Linked DNA regions of Homo sapiens: regions 1 and 3 are each reported to be linked to region 2. The links are microRNA targets in miRTarBase. Many come from high-throughput screens and were not tested one by one. Region 2 holds a microRNA gene; each other region holds the end of a gene's coding sequence.
The links. Region 2 holds the annotated microRNA hsa-miR-606 (AAACUACUGAAAAUCAAAGAU, at 4,052-4,072, shown strand). A microRNA usually pairs through its seed, bases 2 to 8, with sites in the 3' UTR of a target mRNA and lowers its output. Matches are read on the target gene's strand: a 7mer-m8 pairs with bases 2 to 8, a 7mer-A1 pairs with bases 2 to 7 and ends in A, and an 8mer does both.

Region 1: the mRNA of TMEM87B is a reported target of hsa-miR-606. Seed matches in the 3' UTR shown: 7mer-A1 at 896-902 and 7mer-m8 at 2,405-2,411.
Region 3: the mRNA of SYT11 is a reported target of hsa-miR-606. The part of its 3' UTR that is shown has no 7-base or 8-base seed match.

The regions. Positions count from the first base shown.
Region 1 is chr2:112,115,269-112,122,394 of GRCh38, forward strand. It overlaps TMEM87B (transmembrane protein 87B), which reads left to right. Exons shown (of 19, transcript NM_032824.3): 19 at 816-4,046. The coding sequence ends at 875. Among named protein-coding and RNA genes, the nearest start is that of FBLN7, 20 kb to the right of the region's middle.
Region 2 is chr10:75,548,467-75,555,592 of GRCh38, forward strand. It overlaps MIR606 (microRNA 606), which reads left to right and starts at 3,992; the gene lies at 3,992-4,087. All of the region lies in intron 2 of LRMDA (leucine rich melanocyte differentiation associated), which reads left to right.
Region 3 is chr1:155,880,617-155,887,742 of GRCh38, forward strand. SYT11 (synaptotagmin 11) reads left to right here. Exons shown (of 4, transcript NM_152280.5): 3 at 1-7; 4 at 582-4,583. The coding sequence ends at 892. Among named protein-coding and RNA genes, the nearest start is that of SYT11, 25 kb to the left of the region's middle.

The sequences.
Region 1 (7,126 bases), not on the chromosome of region 2:
TGTAGCATTACAGAAAGATTCATAACTCTACAGAAAGATGTAGCATTACAGAAAGATTCATAACTCTACAGAAAGATGTAGCATTACAGAAAGATTCATAACTACAGAAAGATGTAGCATTACAGAAAGATTCATAACTCTACAGAAAGATGTAGCATTACAGAAAGATTCATAACTCTACAGAAAGAGGTAGCATTACAGAAAGATTCATAACTCTACAGAAAGATGTAGCATGTAGATTAAAAGTACTTTAAATGCCCCTTTAAAAGGAATTTTATGCTACATCTTTCTGTATTTAAAGTTTTAGTAAATAATTCATTTGTAATTTCAATAATACATTAATTTAGTAAAGTGAGGCAAATCTCTAGATGAGCTAGGCCTAAGAAATCCATTTTAGCTCTATTCCTGCCTCTCATTGGAGATTCTGAACTTGACATGTTTTCTAGCTAGCAGGAAGTTGAAGTTTTCTGAACTTCTCAGCAGATAACTGACTATACATTATTGGAGAGTATGGATTATATGGTTATTTTTTAATTTTTAAATTTTTTATAAGGATGAGGTCTCTCTATGTTGCCCAGGCCGGTCTCGAACTCCTAGCGTCAAGCAGCCTTCCCGCCTCGGCCTCCCAAAGTGCTGAGATTACAGGCATGAGTCACTGTACTTGGCCTTTTATTTTCTGTATGTAATATTTCCATGTATATTATGGAATATATTTAGTTTCCCTAAATGTGGCTGTTGAAAGATTAGAAAATTTTTGTTAGGGTTCTGGAAGTAGTATCAACATGTTGATACATATCTTCTTTTTTTTTCTTCAGGAAATCATGACCAGATCTGAAATGGCTGAAAAAATGTTCTCTTCAGAAAAGATAATGTGATTGGAACCCGTATAAGAAATGTAGTTAAGCCTGAAGGACTATCCTTCATCAAGACTGAAAGTGAGCTTTGATTTGATATTGCCTAAAAATTTTTATTGTGTTATCTTGGAAGTCTGTGTATCAAAATGAAGAATTCAGATGGTAGGAGGTTCTATAGTCCTTTTAAAGCTGACTCTTGAGTGTCAGTTGAATATCCATTAAATTGGATTTGGAAATAACCTGAGGAAAGTATTATGATAAAGATCTGCACAGATGCCTCTTAGCTGATAGGTGGCAGGCCTGTGGGTTTGGGTTCTCCCTCTTTTCTCTGGAACATATGACAATTCCAGATTAAAGAAAAATGTTTTTTAATAAATACCCTTGGTCTTTCTTCTAGTCACCTTTGAGGTAGATATTGTGATTTTCTGGAGTATAGTATATCCGTGTCTCTGTGTCTTAGGTTTACTAGATGCAATAATACTTCTCTTTGACATTTGTACTGAAGTGATTTGATATTAAGTAAAACAGTTAATGTTTGAATATAGGCATATTTATAGGTTTTTTCCGCTCCCCCCCAACCCACCCTTTTTAAAAAATCTATACAAAGCCCTTGTTTGAGTCTCATCATGCACATCAAATCATGGAGTTAGGTCTTCTCTGAGCTCAGGGGAACACAAGTGCACAGAGAGAGATGTCTTGAGGGTCACTACCAAAGAATTACCCTCATTGTCCCTCACTCAGGCCATGTGTACATGCGATGCTGCTGAGTGTGCTGGGGTGGGTGGTGGCCACGTGGCTCCCCCAGAGCACTTCCTAACTGGCAAGCTGGGAGACCCATTACTGGTGAACTTTGTGGAAATTAGAACTGTATCTTTTACATAATCTTGGCATATTACATTTCATAATAAAAACATACATTTAGTTGCATGCTACATCACTATTGATTTTATAATTAATTTCTTAAGCTTCAACCATGTTTTATACCTTATTTCGTTACATCATATATTTGTAATGTGTAATATGAAATCTTTTGCTTTAATGTCTTTTTTTAAAATGTAGAATGTTCTAAACTTGAAAGGCAATTGAATGTAGTATGATGAAAATGTGAATGTTTTGCTGCTTTCATGACCAAAGATACAGGGCTAGTGGACATTTAGAATAATAATTAAAGCTAGAGTCTTGTATGTCTTTTCTTTGAAGGAGTTCTAACCTTGTAAATTGAGAATGACTTCAGAGAATTTTGATTAAGAAAACATTAAAATCTTAACCGGCACAAACACTCCAATTTTTTTCACTGTGAAGCCGCAAGCAATTTTTTTTCTTTTTCTTTCAAAAGCCTACCTTCTGAATTTATTTCTTGTTTACTCATTTCAGAGAGGGTAGTAAAGAAGATCTATTTCTGGTAGTCATATCGCTTGAAAGGTATTGGTAAATGTGTTTTCAGTCGTGACCATGTGGAAAGTGAACAGTGTTGGCAAACATTACCGAGAAAATCATGCTTTTCAAGATGCCCTTGCTTTGGGATATCCTTCCTAGGGAGAAAAAAAAAAAGTAGTTTAACAATTGTGAATTCCATTTCTTATTTCAGTTTCTGCTGCAGTAATGGGTTCCCACCCACTATAATTCCCAGCATTTATGTTCTGTTGTATTCTCCCCTTAGCCCAGTAACATTTTTATCTAATACCCCATTCCCCAAGTTTTGAGACAGATTGACCCCCTACTCATTATGTGGCTCTAGTTGAATTTTAAAATGTGGAATATTGGGCTTGCAGGCAGTAGGAGCTGCAAATCTGGTAGAGTGGGAGTGTGGAGTTAATGGTGAGTATGTTAATAAAGGGAAACTGTCTCTGACAGAATCTCAGTAATGTTTACCAAAACATGTCTTTCTACAGCTGGTAGGATAAATGATGCTACCCTGTAGCTCAGCTACAGGCTGCAGTGCAAACTTTTCTTCCATCCAGAGAAAGCAGAATTCCCTCCTAGTAACCTCATTACAAATACTGTTACTAGAAGGGCATGTGCTGTCTGTCACCTTCAGTAATATTTGTGCCATCTCTTGATGACTGATGACCTGGATCGAGTATTTCTATGAAGGGTCTTCTTAGGCCCCTTACATACGCAAGAGGGGTGCTCTAGTGCCATAGCTGTAGTTCACAGGAAGGACACCAGGAGAAGTTATACCTAGGGCTACTGAGCAGCTCATCATCCCTGTTTCTGCACAGTTTCCTGAAACTGGCCATCAGGGCCTCTGAGGCACTCAAATCAGTTTACTTTTAGCATGCCCCCATCAGGGTGGGTCTCACTGTTAGTGAGGATACGGGTCTGGTTTGATGTTTTTCTAGGCAAAATGCTTAAGTGTTCTGGTTATGCCATTCATTCATACGATGTGTGAAATTTGCTTAAAAGGGAATTTTCATGATTTGATTTAGATTAGTATTTAAATATCTGCTTTAGATAGCAATTAATTTTATTGTAAAAATAAGGAAAAATATGTGAATATGTGAATTTTTTAAGCCTGAGAGATGATAGAATGTTCCCATATTTTTCTTGTAAAGAAAATAATATTTTAACTTACACATCCTGTAGAAAATACCACCTTTTCCCCTTGTATTACAGTACAATGTTTACATTACTATACTGTCAAGCTGAAAGTATAAAAAATGTACATATACATTTTGAGTTATGTATCCTTTTTTTAAAAAAAAGTTCGAGTCTGTTGCACTAGGCTGTACATGACTAAAGTTGACAGATGCTATGCTAGATTTATAATCACTAGTTCTGGTACTTGTGTCTTTGTATGATCAAAGCATGCAATAAGCAATACAAAATACCAAGCCTTATACTTAAAAGAAGTTTAACATATTGGTTAATATACTGGTTAATATACTGGTTAAACATATTGAATGTATATAAGTGGCAAAACTAGATTTTTAAGGAAGTGTACATTATAATATTGGAGCTCAGTACTGCATGAAGAGACTTCATTAAAACTAAGAAAACATTTATTTGGGGAGAAATTTTAGGCATTTAAGAACTTGTATTTTTCTATTTTAAAAAGTTAAATTATTCCGTAATTTGGAAGAAGTTTCGTTGAATGTAGGACATAACCGTTTGAAGGGTTTTCATTTGAAAAATTGATGTATTTTGTGCCTTAATATTTTGTTCTTTTAATAAAAATGCTCTGAATTTGAATGATTGATTCTTGATAGTATTTATTGGTGCTAGATTATATAAATCTGTAGGACATATAGACATATATAGACTCCAATAGATGGCAGGACATAAAATTCTTAAAACAGGAGGCACAGCTAATCAAACATGGAAAAGTGCTCAACCTCAGTAGTAGTAAAGAAATGCAAAACAAAAGATAGGGGATAGTTTAAAAAATCAAATTAACATAAGTTTGTACTATGGTATATTTGTAAAATCCTTTTGCTTTCAAAGTCTGATGAAATGAGCACACTTATTAATGATGGTAATATAGTTGATTTCCTTTTTTGTGAAAAGTTCAACAATGTGTTTATAACCTTTGAATAATGTCAATTCTGGTGATATTTTAAAAAATGATTCAAAATACAGAATAAAGTTTCTCCACAAAAGTGTTTATTATAATATTAAAGTAGAAATAAAATTAGAGACAAACAATATCATAGTTAAGTGAATTATGGTTTAACCAGCTACTTTATGAGATATTGTATAGCCATTAAATTATGAAGAATTTATAATAAAAATACTTATAAGAACTGTGATGCAGTGGCACATATGTGAATGCTTATCTATGTAAAAATAAGGTAGAGCAACTTACTCTCATGGTTCAGAAAAAATGCATTCTATCTTCCAACTTTTCTGTAAAGTTACAGAATTAAGTAATTACATAATTCTTAATTACATAAATAATTACATAATTAATTATTATTTTGAAATAAAGATAATTTAAAAAAAAAAAGGCCGGGCGTAGTGGCTCACGCCTGTAATCCCAGCACTTTGGGAGGCCAAGGTGGGTGGATCACAAGGTCAGGAGATCGAGACCATCCTGGCCAACATGGTGAAACCCTGTCTCTACTAAAAAAAAAATACAAAAAATTAGCCGGGCGTGGTGGCGGGCGCCTGTAGTCCCAGCTACTCGGGAGGCTGAGGCAGGAGAATGGCGTGAACCCGGGAGGCAGAGCTTGCAGTGAGCTGAGATTGGGCCACTGCACTCCAGCCTGGGCGACAGAGCGAGACTCCGTCTCAAAAAAAAAAAAAAAAAAAAAGTAGAGAAAGGATTGAGTGGAAAAGCACTGGGGTGGCATACATGGTTAGTGTTGAGGCTCAGCCAGGCTGTGGTCACAACTTGATTTTAGCCTTTCAGAAACTTAAGACAAAAAGTTTATTTCTTGCTCATGTGACAATTCTTCAGTAGGTATAGAGGTGGGAAGGGCCACCCTCCTCCACATGTCCCTCAGACACCCGGGGTTTATTTCCATCTTGCGGACCCACCATACCCTAGGGCCTAATTTTTACCCCTAATTTTCTAAGAAACATATTCAACATAAATATGTAAAAATAATAGTGCCTTGGCCAGGCGCAGTGGCTCACACCTGTAATCCCAGCACTTTGGGAGGCCGAGATGGGTGGGTCACGAGGTCAGGAGATCGATACCATTCTGGCTAACACAGTGAAACCGCATCTCTACTAAAGATAGAAAAAAATTAGCTGGGCATGGTGGCAGGCACCTGTAGTCCCAGCTACTCGGGAGGCTAAGGCAGGAGAATGGCGTGAATCTGGGAGGCGGAGCTTGCAGTGAGCCGAGATTGTGCCACTGCACTCCAGCCTGGGCGACAGAGCGAGACTCTCAATAATAATAATAATAATAATAATAATAATAATAATAATAGTGCCTTAGACTATGTATCAGAAAATCTAGAAAAGTGTGTCTTGGTTCACAGCTTAATCTTAATTAATTTAAAAAATCCATCTTGCTGTAAGTAGATGGGACATGGAGAATTTTCTTCATGGACATTCTCCCACCTTTGACATGTGAGGAGTGAGAGGGACAAGATGGATAGTCCCAGAGGGAAAGGAAGGGCTGTTGTCATAAGACTGATGACCATTTTGGCAGACTTGGGAGCACTTGCAGAGTGCCAGGCTTTGGTAACCACTGTATTCTCACAGTAGCCAATGAAGTATTAGTTCCCTTGGTTCATAGATTAGAAAACTGAGAGAGAGGTTAAATAATTTGATAGTTTACCATCCTGGCAGGTGGCAAGGCTGGTATAATACTGGTGGGAATCATCCTAGAAGGGTTGTCCTCGAAGTCCTGAGGAGAGAGGAGTTTCGGTTAACAAAGTGCTGTTTGCTTGTTAGAGAAGGTTAAGTAAGACAATGTATCTAAAGTGCCTGGTGCATAGCCTTCAGGAGGCAGCTAAGGTTAATGTGAAAGGTACAGCAATGATTGAGGGGTGACTGAGACTCAATTGAAACAAATGGCATATGAAATTCAAACACATTCCAGGATTGATTCACTTGTATTAAGATGAAGTTACCCAGAGCAAGTTTTATGCCCCTTAAGTGATAGGGAATGTACAGCTACATTAACAGAGGTGACCTGATATTTACATCTGGTCAGAGGCTGACCTGATTTATATCTGATTTCAGATGTAAATAATTTTGACAGTATTTCCTTAAAATCATTTTGAAAAAACAAGAAGCTGCAATGGAAGTTTATGCACAGGAAAAAATGTGAAAGCTATCCAGCAGGTGGTGCCAAAGTAATGTCTCTTGAAGAGTTCTAATCTTTTTTTCTTTTCTCTAATTCTTCCCTTTACAGATTTTATAAATTTACTTACCAAATGCCACTAAACAAATTTGGGGATGAAGAAAAAAACTTAAAAATAATTCACACAGCACTGCCCTGGAAAAACAGTTATTTTGGTATATTTTAAAACTTTAAAGCTGGAAAGAGCCTCTAAGATCATCTTACAAATGAGGAAATGGAGGACCAGGAAAGTGTCACTGGCTACAGTTCCCTCAGACCAGGGTTGAAGACTGCCTCCTAGTTTGTTTTTCTCACCTCTGGTCCTTATTGTCAGGGGGAAAGAGATGCCACAGAAGGGTTGGACTGGGCATCAAAACTTGAAATACATTTTATATACTTTGGTGACCACTTGCTACGTCATTTCATATGACTTCATTGTCTTTTCAGCTTCCAAATTCTTGTTTCTACATGGTCATAATTCCAGTTCTCTGTTTCTTCATTTGATAAGTGGAGATTTTCTTGGGGTTCAGTGGAG
Region 2 (7,126 bases):
GACCCAGCCTAGGCCTCCTTCCTCGCTAATTAGGTTCCTTCTGACCTGGACATCCCACAGTATCTTAAACAATGAGGGGTAGTTCCTATTTTCAGCACAGGAGCCCCAGATGGTCTTCTGCTTCTCAGAACTCCTTTTTGAACTCTCTGCATTCTTAAGCAAAACAACTCAGAACCAGATGCTGGGTGGCTCATTACAAACATGAAAATGAATTTTCATATTCCTTCATGTTATTGAAATATGTAATATTTCTTATCTCTTTGATCTCTGGCCTATAAAAAAGATCTAAGTATCTGTCGGAAATATACATACTCGGGTTGTATAGACCTATCTGTAATGGAGCCAGGAGCTCAGTGAAGTTCCATTTGAGGCAACAGAAGGAGGTAACTCCTCAAAAAGTCTTTTCCAGGAAGGTTAGTCAAGACCTATGCTGATCTGACCATGTTAAGAGTTATTTATTATTACTGTTATTAGTTTATTACTACAATTTCCTATCTTGGATAATGGTACAGTTGGCCCTGTATATCCACTGTTTCTGCATCCACCAATTCAACCAACTACAAATTGAATATTCAATCTGAAATGGAATCATACAGTATTCACCCTTTTGTGTGCCTAGTTTCTTTCACTCAAAAGCATAATGCTTTTGAGATTCATCCATGTGGTTGCATGTATTACTAGCTTGTTTCTTTTTATTGTTGAGTAGTATTCTATTGTGTGAATGTATCAGAATTCTTGACACGTTCACCATTTGATGGCTGTTTGGATTGTTTAAAGTTTTAGCTATTTTGAATAAGCAGCAATAAATATTTGCTCAGAATATTCAATCAATTGAATATTGGGATGTTTGATCTGGAATGCAGATCCTGCACATATGAAGGGCTGCCTGTAAAGGACTTGAGCATGCTTAGATTTTGGTATTTGTGGGGTGTCCTGGAACCAATCTCCCATACCAACAGACCACTGTATTTAAATTTGTTTTTAATTTTATTTATTTGTATATATTTTTAGAGACAAGGTATTGTTACATTGTCTAGGTTATTCACAGGCACAGTCACAGCATACTACAACCTCAGACTCCTGGGCTAAAGTGATCCTCCTGCCTCAGCCTCCTGAGTAGTTGAGACTACAGGTACATGCCACTGCTTCAGGTTATTTTTTATTTTTGAAGTCAGATTTAGTGAGATATAATTTATGCACAATTAATTCCCTTTCTAAGTGCACAGATGATTTTTGACAAATGCATACAGTCATGTAACCACCATCATCATAATCAAGACGTAACATTTTTATCGCCATAAAAAGTTTCCTTGTGCCCACTTTTCAATCTCCTTTCTCCTTCCTTGGCTCATGGCATGCACTGATGTAATTATTGTCTCAGTGGCTTTGCCTATCCCCAGAATGTCATAAAAATGGAATCATACAGTATTCACCCTTTTGTGTGCCTAGTTTCTTTCACTTAGCATAATGCTTTTGAGATTCATCCATGTAGTTGCATGTATCACTAGTTTGTTTCTTTTTATTGTTGAGTAGTATTCTATTGTGTGAATGTACCACAATTCTTGACACATTCACCATTTGATGGCTGTTTGGACTGTTTAAAGTTTTAGCTATTTTGAATAAGCAGCTATAAACATTTGCTCAGAAACTAGTCTGTCTTAGTGAATGTTCCATGGGCCCTTCAAAAGAATGTGGATTCTGCTATTGTTGGTTGGAATCGTCTATAGATGTCAGTTAATTCAATTTGGTTGATAGTGTTGTTCAGGCTTCTATATCTTTACTTATTTTTGATCTACTTTTTATATAAATTACTAAGAGAGGAGTATTCAAGTCTCCTATTCTTCCTGGTTTTTGTCTACTTCTTTCAGTTTGATCAGATTTTTCTTTATGTATTTTGGAACTCTGTTGTTAGATGCATACATATACATTAGTTATATCTTCTTGATGAACTGAGTCTTTGTTCCTAAACATATTCCTTGTTCTGAAACCTACTTTGTATTATGTTATTATACAGACTGGAGTTTTTGTGTAATGTTTGTGTTGTATCTATTTTTTCACTGTTAATATATGTCTCTGTGTTTATATTTATAATGAATTTCTTTTAGAGAGCATATAGTCAGGTCTTGCTTTCATAACGAGTCTGATTATATCTGCTTTTTAATTTGGAATGTTTAGGCCATTTATCCTTAATGTAACTATTGGTATAGTTGGTTTTGAGTCTACCATTTTGCAAATTGTTTTCTATGTGTCTTATATGTTCTCTATTTCCTTCTTTTCCTGCCTTCTTTTGAATTATTTGTATATATTTATGATTTCATTTCATCTCCACCACTGGCTTATAAGTTTACTCCTTTTAAAAATGTTCTAGTGATTGCTTTAGGGTGTACAGTATATATATTTAACACAGTTTACCTTCAGATAATACATTGCTTTATTTATAGTTTAAGAATCTTACAATGGTACTCTTCCATTTTCTTCTTTCCATCCTTTGTTCTATTGTCTACATTTTACTTTTACATATGTTATAAACTCTACTGATCATTGGTACTATCTTTTCTTTAGACAGCAATTATCTTTTTTTTTTAACCTGGGAAAATGTTTTTTTTACTTGATTAATAGGAAAATGAAAATATTCTGTTTAAATATTTTCTAGTTTAATCTATTTGCAAACTAAATATATTTTGCAGTCAGCTATCTTTTTTTTTTTTTTTAACCTAGGATTTGAGGAAGGATGTTCCACAGAAATAGAACAGTATGAACACAAGTAGAGCAACAAAAGAAAGTGTGGTTCAACCTTACCAGGAGATATGTAGGTGTAGAAGCACTAAAAAGTAAGACCATGGAGGGCCTGGCTTACTTGATATTTATTTATTTATTTTTTATAATACTTTAAGTTCTGGGGTACATGTGCAGAACATACGGGTTTGTTACATAGGTATACACGTGCCATGGTGGTTTGCTGCACTCATTAACCCATCATCTACATTATGTATGTCTTCTAATGCTACCCCTCCCCTAGCCCCCATCCCCCAACAGGCCCCAGTGTGTGATGTTCCCCTCCCTGTGTCCATGTGTTCTAATTGTTCAGCTCCCACTTATGAATGAGAACATGTGGTGTTTGGTTTTCTGTTCTTGTGTTACTTTGCTGAGAATGATGGTTTCCAGCGTCATGCATGTCCCTGCAAAGGACATGAACTCATCCGTTTTTATGGCTGCATAGTATTCCATGGTGTATACGTGCCACATTGAGTCAGCTATTTTTTTTGAGAGGCTAAAATTAAGAAAAAATTTGCTGGGCACTGTGGCTTATGCCTGTAATCCCAGCACTTTGGGAGGCTTAGGTGAGAGGATCGCTTGAGGCCAGGAGTTTGAGACCAGCCTGGGCAACATAGTGAGACCCATTCTCTACAAAACATTAAAAAAAATATTAGCTGGGTGTGGTGGCTCAAACCTGTAGTTCCAGCCTCTTGGTAGACTGAGATAGGAGGATTGCCTGAGCCCAGGAGGTCAAGGATTCAGTGAGCTGTGATTGCACCACTGCACTCCAGCCTGGGCAACAGAGTTAGACACTGCCTAGGCAACAGAGTTAGACCGTGTCTCTAAAAAATAAAAGAAATAAAAACAATCTGTCTTTTATTATCCACATTTTAATCATTTCTAGAGCTCTTTCTTTCTGTAGATCTGAATTTCCTTCTAGTACCAGACTCCTGCCTGAGGTCTTTATTTAACATCATCATAGTATGGTATGTTGGCAATGAATTTTTTCAGTTTCTGTGTGTCTGAAAAATTCTTTATCTTACCTTCATTTTTTAGCAGATACTTTCACTTGTATAGAATTCCATGTGGACAGTTTTTTCTGTCAGTGCTTTAATGGTGTCACTCCATTTTCTTTTGCATTGCATTCTTTCTGTTGAGCAGTGCGCTGTCATTCTTAGCTTTGTTCTGTGTTTTTTTTTTTTCCCCCCCCTCTGGCTGCTTTCAGAATTTTCACTGTATCCTTGGTTTTTAGTAGTTTTACTATGATGAGGTGTGCCATCCACCCCATCATAGTAAACTACTGAAAATCAAAGATACAAGTGCCTGACCACTTCTACCCCTCATCCCCTACTTGGGATTTTCTGAGGTTCTTTGAACTGTGGTTTGCTCTTTTTAATTAATTTTGGAAAATTCGTAGCTATTATCTCTTCAAACTTTTTTTTTCTGCTTCCTTTTCTCTCTCTCCTACTTTTGGGATTCAAAATATATGTTATACTGTTTACTATTATCCTATAGCTCTCATATGCTTTTTTTTTTCCTTGTTATTATTTTGGATCATTTCTACTCACCTATCTTCAAGTTTGTAAATCATTTTCTCTGCTGTGTTCAGTTTGTTGATAAACCTTATGATGAAATTCTTCCTTTTTGTTATCCTTTTGATTTCTAGCCTTTCCATTTGACTCATTTTAAAGAAAAAGTTTCCATTTCTCTTTTACAATTATTTATTCATTCATGTTGTCTACCTTTTTCTCTAGATTAAAAACTTAATTATAGTTATTTTAAGTCCCTATCTGATAATTTTAACATCTGCATCACATCTGTTTCTGGTAATGTTGACTACTTTATCTTTTGACCAAGAGTCTTCATTTTTTTTCTTGCTTTTTGTCTGATAATTTTTGATTCAATGCCAGATAATGCATATAAAAGAACAGTAGAGACTGAGGCAAATAGTATTTATGCTTGGAAATGGAGACTCTTCTGTTGGGATGTTAGTGTGGGTAGTTGAGTCAATGCAGTCAGTAATTGAGCTAGATCTGAGTTTTGTTCTATGACAGCTTCAAATTCTTCCAGTGGTGGCTTGCTGCTACCTTTGCTTAGTGGTGAGCCTGGAGAGATGAAGGGTTTTCCTCAAGTTTCCATTTCATCCTCAGCTTTCAGCTGGTCCCATATGCTTACTCTAGAGAATGGGTCTCTCTCAATGCTGTTGCCCCTCTTTGAGGGCTAGACTGCTGTTGCTTATTACTCAGTGTGAAGCTTGTGGTGTGGTGGAGGATCTCAGTCTTAGGTAGGCCCTGTGTATCTGGGTCCCAGGTATGAGACTTTTTCTGTCTCATATTTGTTGGGACTCTTGGGTAGGAGAGCATTTTCTGTCCCTCCTCCAGGGCAGCAGGCCTCTATATCTATGCAAGATTCTGTAACTGAAAAGGTTTTCTACCCCTTCACCCAGAGGCAGACATATTTTGCTTCTATCTCTCCTTTAGTTAAAGCGCACCTTTTAAGGAGGAAGTGGCTTCCTCCTTAGTGGCTTATGACTTCTCTTTTTTATGAGAGAAGGGCCTGGGAAGTAGGCAAGATTTCATGCCTGTGCACAGTGTAGGGGGCTCTCTTTTATCTGTTGTTTGGTCTTAATCTCTCTTGTGAGCACCATGGGGAAAAAAATGAGGAGTGAGTGCAGACTCTCCTTGTGGCTGGGGCTCTTGGGAATTCTAAACTTTCTTGTTAGCCCATATCCAACATTAAAAAATTTGTTAAAATGTTAGCTGTTTTCTTTTTATTTACTTTTTTGATGGCTACCTTTTCAATCTGTCCTCTGCTAAAGAAGAAATGCTTTGTGTGTTCTATCTGTTCTTGGAGGGACTAGTCACACTTTGAAATTAAGTTCACCATTTGCCTTGCAACCTCAGCTCTCTGATGGGTTGGAGAAAAGTTATGATTTTGTAGATTATCTGGCTTTTTCCTTTTAGTATGGGAGTGATGCTTATTTGTAGTTTTCTGCATCCTGAGAAGTAATGGAATTCCTAGATGATATTTTAAGTGACACTGGTCAGTTGCAGTGTGTCCAGGGTGATCAGGAGGATTCTAGAAATCCTTCCAAATGGGAAGCAATGAAACAAACAAGGAACATTTATACTGCAGAAGAGAAATGATGTTGGAGAGAGGAACATGGTGTATGATAGTCACTGTACATAGCTGTGAGATTGATGTGATGAGGTAGGTGTAGACTTTTACCTGACATTTCTAATGGCATTAATCAATTAACCGATCAGTTATTTAGCCCCTCCTCTGTGCTAGGTACTAGGAATGCAAAGACAAATGAGTTCCTATCACTACTCTTAGGAGCTCCCAATCTAGAATTATGAATTACAGCTAATGATGGTAATTATAAGGTGGCAGACTTCAGTTTAATCTAAGAAAGAACTTGCCAATGTTTAAAGACGTTGAAAGTGGGATAGACAATGTGGAACGGATGTGAGCTTTTAGAGTTGTAGTGACCAAAATTCAAAACCTGGCTGTACTATTTTCTAGAAGAGAGAACATAGGCAAGTTAACATCTTTCTTTGAGGCCTAGTTTCCTCATCTGTAAAATGAGGATGATAATACTTTCGTTAAAGGATGATTGAGTAGATGCAAAGAAATGAAGTATGTAATGTGTCCAAGTCATTTACTTTTCTTTTTATATTTCCTTAAAGTTGTATACTCTTGTCAGTAGAGAGATTTAAGCAGAATATCAGCCAGGGTGGAGTGGATTCTTGTTCTCCTCCATAGGAGATGGGACAGGATGATCTACTGGTCCTTTTCAGTTAGTCCTGAGGGGCTGGGATTTAAGCATCCATGGGTATCTGATGAGAAGGGACAGTCTCTGATTCTGATGGGGAGGAGTTTGGTGGGCCCTGGGCTGTCTGCTCTCCATGGCCCTATGAGAGAGTTCTAGAGAAAACTATGGAGCAACCACACTTTTCTTACATGATTACTAAGGGAGAAGATGCAGGCAGCTACCGGAAGGGGAGCTGACTCTTGGAAGAAGGGAAAGGCTTAGGGTGAATTTCTCATTTTCTACAGCTTTTCTCTTGAGTACAGCCTTCAGTCTGTGCCATGTGGGAAGATAGATAACTTGATAGAAAATATGTATCTTGGTTGGCTTGGATAACCAGAGACTAGAGTTCAGGACAACCTTAGCTGCTGGAAGGAGTGGGGTCTCTGAAAGGAGTGAGCCACAGAGTGGAGCCCCAAATTCCATGTATAAAATCTACCTAAATCTAAGCTGGACTTTGAACTTCATGTGTGGTGCAGATTCCACACTGGCTAGATAAGGCTGAAACAATTGAACTGAAATATGAACTGCTGCCTACCTTAGGGGAGACAGTGTTTT
Region 3 (7,126 bases), not on the chromosome of region 2:
TCAGGTAGCAGCTATTTACTTCAACCTATTTCTTACTGTCTGAACCATCCCCGACTCCTTGCCTGTGGCCCAGATAGACCTCCACACTTCAAGATCCTTGCCTCTTTCACTTTTAATCTGCTCCTCTTTCTGTAGACATTCTCTTCCTGATGAGTATCTACGTCCAATAGATTTCCCTGGCTAGGAAGATTCTTCAGTTGAACAAATGGGGTCTTTACATTTGGCAAGGTATCCTAAATAATATTCATGCCAGGTGCTAAGAGAGACTTCTCAAAAAGGCTGCAGGCATTTGTCTCTGTGCCCTTTAATATACTTCTTGGTATCATGGGATTTCTTCAGACCTAACCTGAGAAAGTTGTTCTGTTCTATTCCTGCTTGGTTTCCTTGGCCCCTCATCCAGGCAGGCAGACTCACATATAGTCAGTGTGTGTTTATTGTGCAATCACTAAAGAACACATGGGATGGCCATCAAAGATACGAACAACAGAGCCCCCCCTTTCCCAACATGAAATTACCATTACATAGGAGAGGACTGTGTCATAGGTCTGTCTCCCTTTTTCTTATCTCTTTGGGGGCCCCAGATCCTTATGTCAAGGTGAACGTCTACTACGGCAGAAAGCGCATTGCCAAGAAGAAAACCCATGTGAAGAAGTGCACTTTGAACCCCATCTTCAATGAATCTTTCATCTACGACATCCCCACTGACCTCCTGCCTGATATCAGCATCGAGTTCCTCGTTATCGACTTCGATCGCACCACCAAGAATGAGGTGGTGGGGAGGCTGATCCTGGGGGCACACAGTGTCACAGCCAGTGGTGCTGAACACTGGAGAGAGGTCTGCGAGAGCCCCCGCAAGCCTGTGGCCAAGTGGCACAGTCTGAGCGAGTACTAATCCTGTTCTTCTCTCCTCTAATCCCCGGGGGCCAAGCTGGGGAGGGATGTGGAGGGGAAAAAGATGACAGAGAAGTGGACTCCAAACCTCATTTTAGTTGTAGAAGAAAATTTCTTACAAAACAAATTCCACAAAGAACACCCTATATGACCACAGCTGCAGATCAGTTCTTAGCAATGATGTTTTTTTTTCTGCTTTGCAAGGCGCTAGAATCTTTTATTTTACTTTATTTTTTTTGAGGTGGAGTTTCGCTCTTGTTGCCCGGGCTGGAGTGCAATGGTGAGATCTCAACTCACTGCAACCTCTGCCCTCCAGGTTCAAGTGATTCTCCTCCCTCAGCCTCCCAAGTAGCTGGGATTACAGGCACCCACGAGCATGCCCGGCTAATTTTTTGTATTTTCAGTAGAGATGGGTTTCACCATGTTGGCCAGGCTGGTCTCGAATTCCAGACCTCAGGTGATCCACCCGCCTCGGCCTCCCAAAGTGCTGGGATTACAGGTGCGAGCCACCGTGCCCGGCCTCTGGTTTTGTTTTGTTTTTTTTTTTTAATGGGGGACAAAAGAGAGGGAAAGACCCCTATAAATCTATATATAACAATGTAACCATATACTTGCATGTCTAATACAAACTGAAGAAATTAGCCTAACTGCCAATATCAAGTTGCAGATTTTAATCCATGGAAATTGTGTTTTGTGCTGAATTGTATTTGCTGATTACCTGAAATTGGCTTCTTTTTATTGGGCTTCTCTGGAGAATTTCTCCCACTCCCCACCTCTGCAGAAGAAAATTTTGCTCTTATAAAACCTCATGTTTTCATCATTCCCATCTTTTCTTTTTATTGCCTCTTATATCTCTGCTCTTTGACCTCAAGGTCTAGAGGTCTGCAGTAAGCCAAGAAACAAAGGTGGGGTGGATGAGGCAAGGTTTGCAGGAGAAAGAGGAATTGAGAAATGGGGTATTTTTGCTATCAGCTCTTCTGCTATGAAGTAGTAAAAGGCAGTCTATAATTAACTGACAGACCTAACTGAAGCACAGAGAATACATCAGACTTATGCATCCAAGACATCAGAACTTGGATTTTATCAAACTTGATGACTTCTCTAAAAGGAGCTTTGGAAACTTCAAATTCAGCTATAGGATAGTACCAATGAACACATCCAGCTGATCCCAAAAGCTGTTTTCAGGTATAAGGACAAGGAGAGGAGACAAGTGACGACAGCCATTCCCCTTTGCAGCTATCTACTGTAGTGACAGCCATTTCTTGGTTGATGGGTTGGAAGTCATCAGAGGTTTGAAGAATTACACTGGCCTTTGTTTTTCTGGAAATGCCGACCATGGAGATGCTTTAGAGTCTTCTCAAATAGCTTAGATGTTGTAATGAGGTTAGCTTTGCTTCATAAAACAGGGGCCCTCAGAAGTTCTCCTTAAATTTTTCAATAAAAATTTAGCTCTTAAAAAAATAACAGTGTGACTGAGTGAATGAAGATAAGTTGGATTCTTTCAGAGCATTCTTTTCCTCAAAACGAGCTGCATAATTCTTGGAATTTATGTCTTACCACATGGTGGAGGGATGGAGGAACTACAGGATGCAATTCTTCTTCTACCAATGGGCAATAGAGGTTGAGAGAGATTCAGCATCTTTCTGGGATTAGAATTCAAGTCTCTTTACTCCTACAGCAGCTGTGTCTCCAACGTTGAGACTTTGCAGATGGCACAGACTCCATGGATAATAGGTAAACTTGGGGCCGGGCGCAGTGGCTCACGCCTGTAATCCCAGTATTTTGGGAGGCCGAGGTGGAAAGATCGCTTGAGCCCAGGAGTTCAAGACCAGCCTGGGCTACATGACGAAACTCCATCTCTATCAAAAATACAAAAAATTAACTAGGTGTGGTGCTGCACGCCTGTGGTCCCAGCTATTCAGGAGGCTGAGGTGGGAGGATCATTTGAGCCCAGAGGTAGAGGCTGCAGTGAGCCATGATCATGCCACTGCACTCTGGGCTGGGTAACAGAGTGAGATCCTGTCTCAAAAATTAATTAATTAATTAATTAAAATAAACTAGGTAAACTTGGATAGGCAGTAGATATTTTTGCCCACCTGAGGAGGAACTCAGTCAAGCTGTTGCTTAACAGCTTGATCCAGGGCGTGAAAGGTTAGTTGAGACTGAAGTGTTCACTTCCATAGAAGAACATCACTTTTAACCTTGCTTTGGCGAAGGGAGTCGGAAAGCTGAGTCTCTATGGACGGGGGGGTGATCTTGCTTTCAGTGTTCCCTCAGCTTTTGTGGATTTAAAACCATTCTGCTCCCCCTAAACCTTTTGTTTGATTTCAGCCCATGTTCTTGACAATGCAGAGCAATTCTGAGCAGTCACAAAGCCTACTCTCTGTTCTTGTCCCTGCCAACCCCCACCCCCCATAATCTGACTCACAACTTCACCATCAGTTGGGGTCATACCACTAGTCTCTGTCCTATACCCCATGAAATGTAAATACTGTATCATAAGTAGAAGAAAATAATTTTTGTTTTCTAAAAATGCATTTTGAGATAGTTTAATGTAAATCTGACAGGAGCATTCTGAAGCCCCATTAGGAAAAAATTTAAATGGTTCCTCTTCATCGCCTTAATGTCTAAAGATCAGAAATCGCTGAGCAAACCCGCTTTTGTTTCCTTCCCAGAAACAATGCAAAACAACAGGTGGAGATAGTCTGGTCTTTGCCCTGCTGTGTGTGCCTCTGTAGCTCCTCCTGACAAACGTCTGGGAAAACAGCCTCACCCCACTCTCCTCTCTCTTCCCCATTTCCTTGTAGCTTTATTCCTTGCATCTTTGGGTCTACTGAGCAGTGGGTGCTGAGGTGACAGGGGAGGAACCAGTTGTTCTGTAGCCTAGGAACTGCCTCAGTGTCTTTGCCAGAAAAAGGCAAAGAGGCGGACAGTGCAGGGCTCCTCCCTCCTACCTCAGGCCTGATCCATCGTGCCCTTGACTTTGCCGTCTCAAAGTTTCTTAGCTGACTTTGGCTTTCACATTTGTTCTTTCCAGAGCTAACTGATAAGAGTGGAGGAGGAATGCCTTCTCCTAAGAGTCAGTTGAAAGAAAGACAAGAGAGTCACATCTTAGCTTTTGCACAAGGCATTCGTGGTCAGGAATAGGTTAGGGAATGGTCACTTCTGATTTTCCAACAGTTGCTCCTTCTCTGAAGAGATCTTGATTCCTTTGGGAAGACAAGAATTTTTCTTAATAACAAAGGTCCCTTTATGAGTTATTCCTTCTTTCAGTTCATCTCACTGGAGCACAGCCAAGATGGACATGTTTATGGACAGTGCTCTAGATGTGAAAACAGATAGAACTGGTTTGTGGGACAGGGGCAGCTTGCTCAGGAGAGGGAATAACGCAGGTCCCTTTTCTTGGAAGGCTTGTACTATGGCCATGACAGTGACATTGCCCTCACCATGATCCCTCTCCAAAGTGGTTGTCTTTCTTTACCTTGTGTCTTCTCTTGTAAAAATGAAACTCAAAAATAAAATAAATGTGTCAAATTTTGAAAAAAAAAGAAAACTGAAAAAGCTAACATGAATTGTGTGAAATTGCATAATGCTGTAATGCTAATCTACAATATGTAATGCTATCTTGTATGTTGAATTTGTTAATGCACCACACAAGTGCAAAATAAAGACTGATTCACATTACATAGGCACAGTGATGTCAGCCTGATTCTCTGGAAAGCTGGAGGACTCTCAGTGAGGTTAACACTCAGACTCCAAAAGGATGTTCTAGGGTGTGTTTTCCAAACTGTGGTCCCCAGACCACTTGATTCAGAATCATCTGAGGCACTTGTTTAAAAATGCAGATTCCAGGCTCCCATCCTAGATACTCTCATTTGACAAGTGAGTTGGTTTGCTGCTTGCTGTAGTTAGGACTTCTGGTCTTTCTGTTTTCCTCTTGAAATGTAATTTCTGAGACCATCACTACCAGAGGGAGAGATGATGGTTCGTAGTGCTGAGAATCAATCTGCCCCTTTAATTGGAAATATTTATCCCAAAAAGCAATCCTGAGACAGGCCAATTCTGTTCCCTCATTCATTCATTTACTTTTTTTTTTTTTTTTTTTTTTTTTTAGACAGTCTCGCTCTGTTGCCCAGGCTGGAGTGCAGTGGCTCAATCTCGGCTCACTGTAACATCCGCCTCCTGGGTTCCAGCGACCTCAAGCAGCTGGGACTACAGGTGCGTGCCACCAAGTTTGGCTAATATTTGTATTTTTAGTAGAGATGGGGGTCTCACCATATTGGCCAGGCTGGCCTGAAACTCCCGGCCTCAAGTTATCCTTCTGCCTTAGCCTCCCAAAGTGCTGGGATTACAGGCGTGAGCCACCGCACCCGGCCTCAAGGCCTGTCAGGAGCTATGAAGGATCTCCCTAGACCTGAACATGGGAGGATGTGGGGCTGAGGCTTCTGTAGTCACTGTGCCCCAGAGAGGAGAGAGCCTGAGAATGGAGCCTGCACAGAAGTACAGCTAAAACAGGGGGAGAGAGAAATCAGACTCCATGACATCTTTGACCTCAGATGAAGCCGTGTCTTCAGACAGATCTGAGCCTTCTCAGTTCCAAGGCTTAATAAATTACCTTTTTCTTTTCTTTTTTTTTTTTTTTTGAGATGGAGTCTGGCTTTGTCGCCGAGGCTGGAGTACAGTGGCGCAATCTTGGCTCACTGCAAGCTCTGCCTCCCGGGTTCACCCCATTCTCCTGCCTCAGCCTCCTGAGTAGCTGGGACTACAGGCGCCCGCCACTACGCCCGGCTAATGTTTTGTATTTTTAGTAGAGACGGAGTTTCACTGTGTTAGCCAAGATGGTCTTGATCTCCTGACCTTGTGATCCACCCACCTCGGCCTCCCAAAGTGCTGGGATTATAGGCGTGAGCCACTGCGCCCAGTCAAATTATCTTTTTCTTTATGCAGCTTGCACTGGGTTATGAAAGTTTAATTTCTGAGTGAAACATTAAATGGCAAAAGTTAATGTTTGATGTTTGGCTTGAATAATTTTCTTTCTTTCTTTCTTTCTTTTTTTTTTTTTTTGAGACAGAGTCTTGCTCTGTTGCCCAGGCTGGAGTGCAGTGGCGTGATCTCGGCTCACTACAAACTCCACCTTCCAGGTTCAAGCGATTCTCCTGCATCAGCCTCCTGAGTAGCTGGGACTACAGGAGGGCGCCACCATGCCCGGCTAATTTTTATATTTTTAGTAGAGACAGGATTTCAACATGTTGGTCAGGCTGGTCTCAAACTCCTGACTTCGTGATCCACCCGCCTCAGCCTCCCAAAGTGTTGGGATTATAGGTGTGAGCCACCACACCCAGCCATAATTTTTTTTTTCAACTTTCATTTTAGATTCAGGGGGGACACATGTGCAGGTTTTTGTTATCTGGCTTTATTGAGTGATGCTGGGATTTGGGATCCTAATGATCCTGTCACCTAGATACTTAGCATAGTACCCAGTTGTTCGTTTGTTTGTTTTAAAACAGTCACTCTATTGCCCAGGCTGGAATAGAGTGGCGCAATCATGGCTCACTACAGTCTCGACCTCCTGAGTTAAATTGATCCTCCTACCTCAGCCTCCCACATAACTGAGACTGGTGCACACCACCATACCTGGCTAATTTTTTTTTTTTTTTTTCTTGAGACAGAGTCTCACTCTATTGCCCAGGCTGGAGTGCAGTGGCACGATCTCGGCTCACTATAAACTCTGCCTCCCAGGTTCAAGCAATTCTTGTGCCTCAACCTCCTGAGTAGCTGGGATTACAGGCACGCACCACCTTGCCCGGCTAATTTTTGTATTTTTAGTAGAGATGAGGGTCTCACCATATTGGCCAGGATGGTCTTGAACTCCTGACCTCAGGTGACACACCTGCCTCGGCCTCCCAAAGTGCTGAGATTACAGGCTTGAGCCACTGTGCCCGGCCACCTGGCTAATTTTTAAATTTTGTTTTGTAGAGATGTGGCCCTCACTATCTTGGGAAGGCTGGTCTTTTTTTTTTTTCCGGGAGACAGAGTCTTGCTCTGTTGCCCAGGCTGGAGTGCAGTGGCATGATCTTGGCTCACAGCAACCTCCGCCTCCTGGGTTCAAGTGATTCTTGTGCCTCAGCCTCCTGAGTAGCTGGGATTGCAGGCATGCATCACCACACCCCGCTAATTTTTTTTTTTTTTTTTTTTGAGATGGAGTTTCACAATTGTTTCCCAGGCTGGAGCGCAA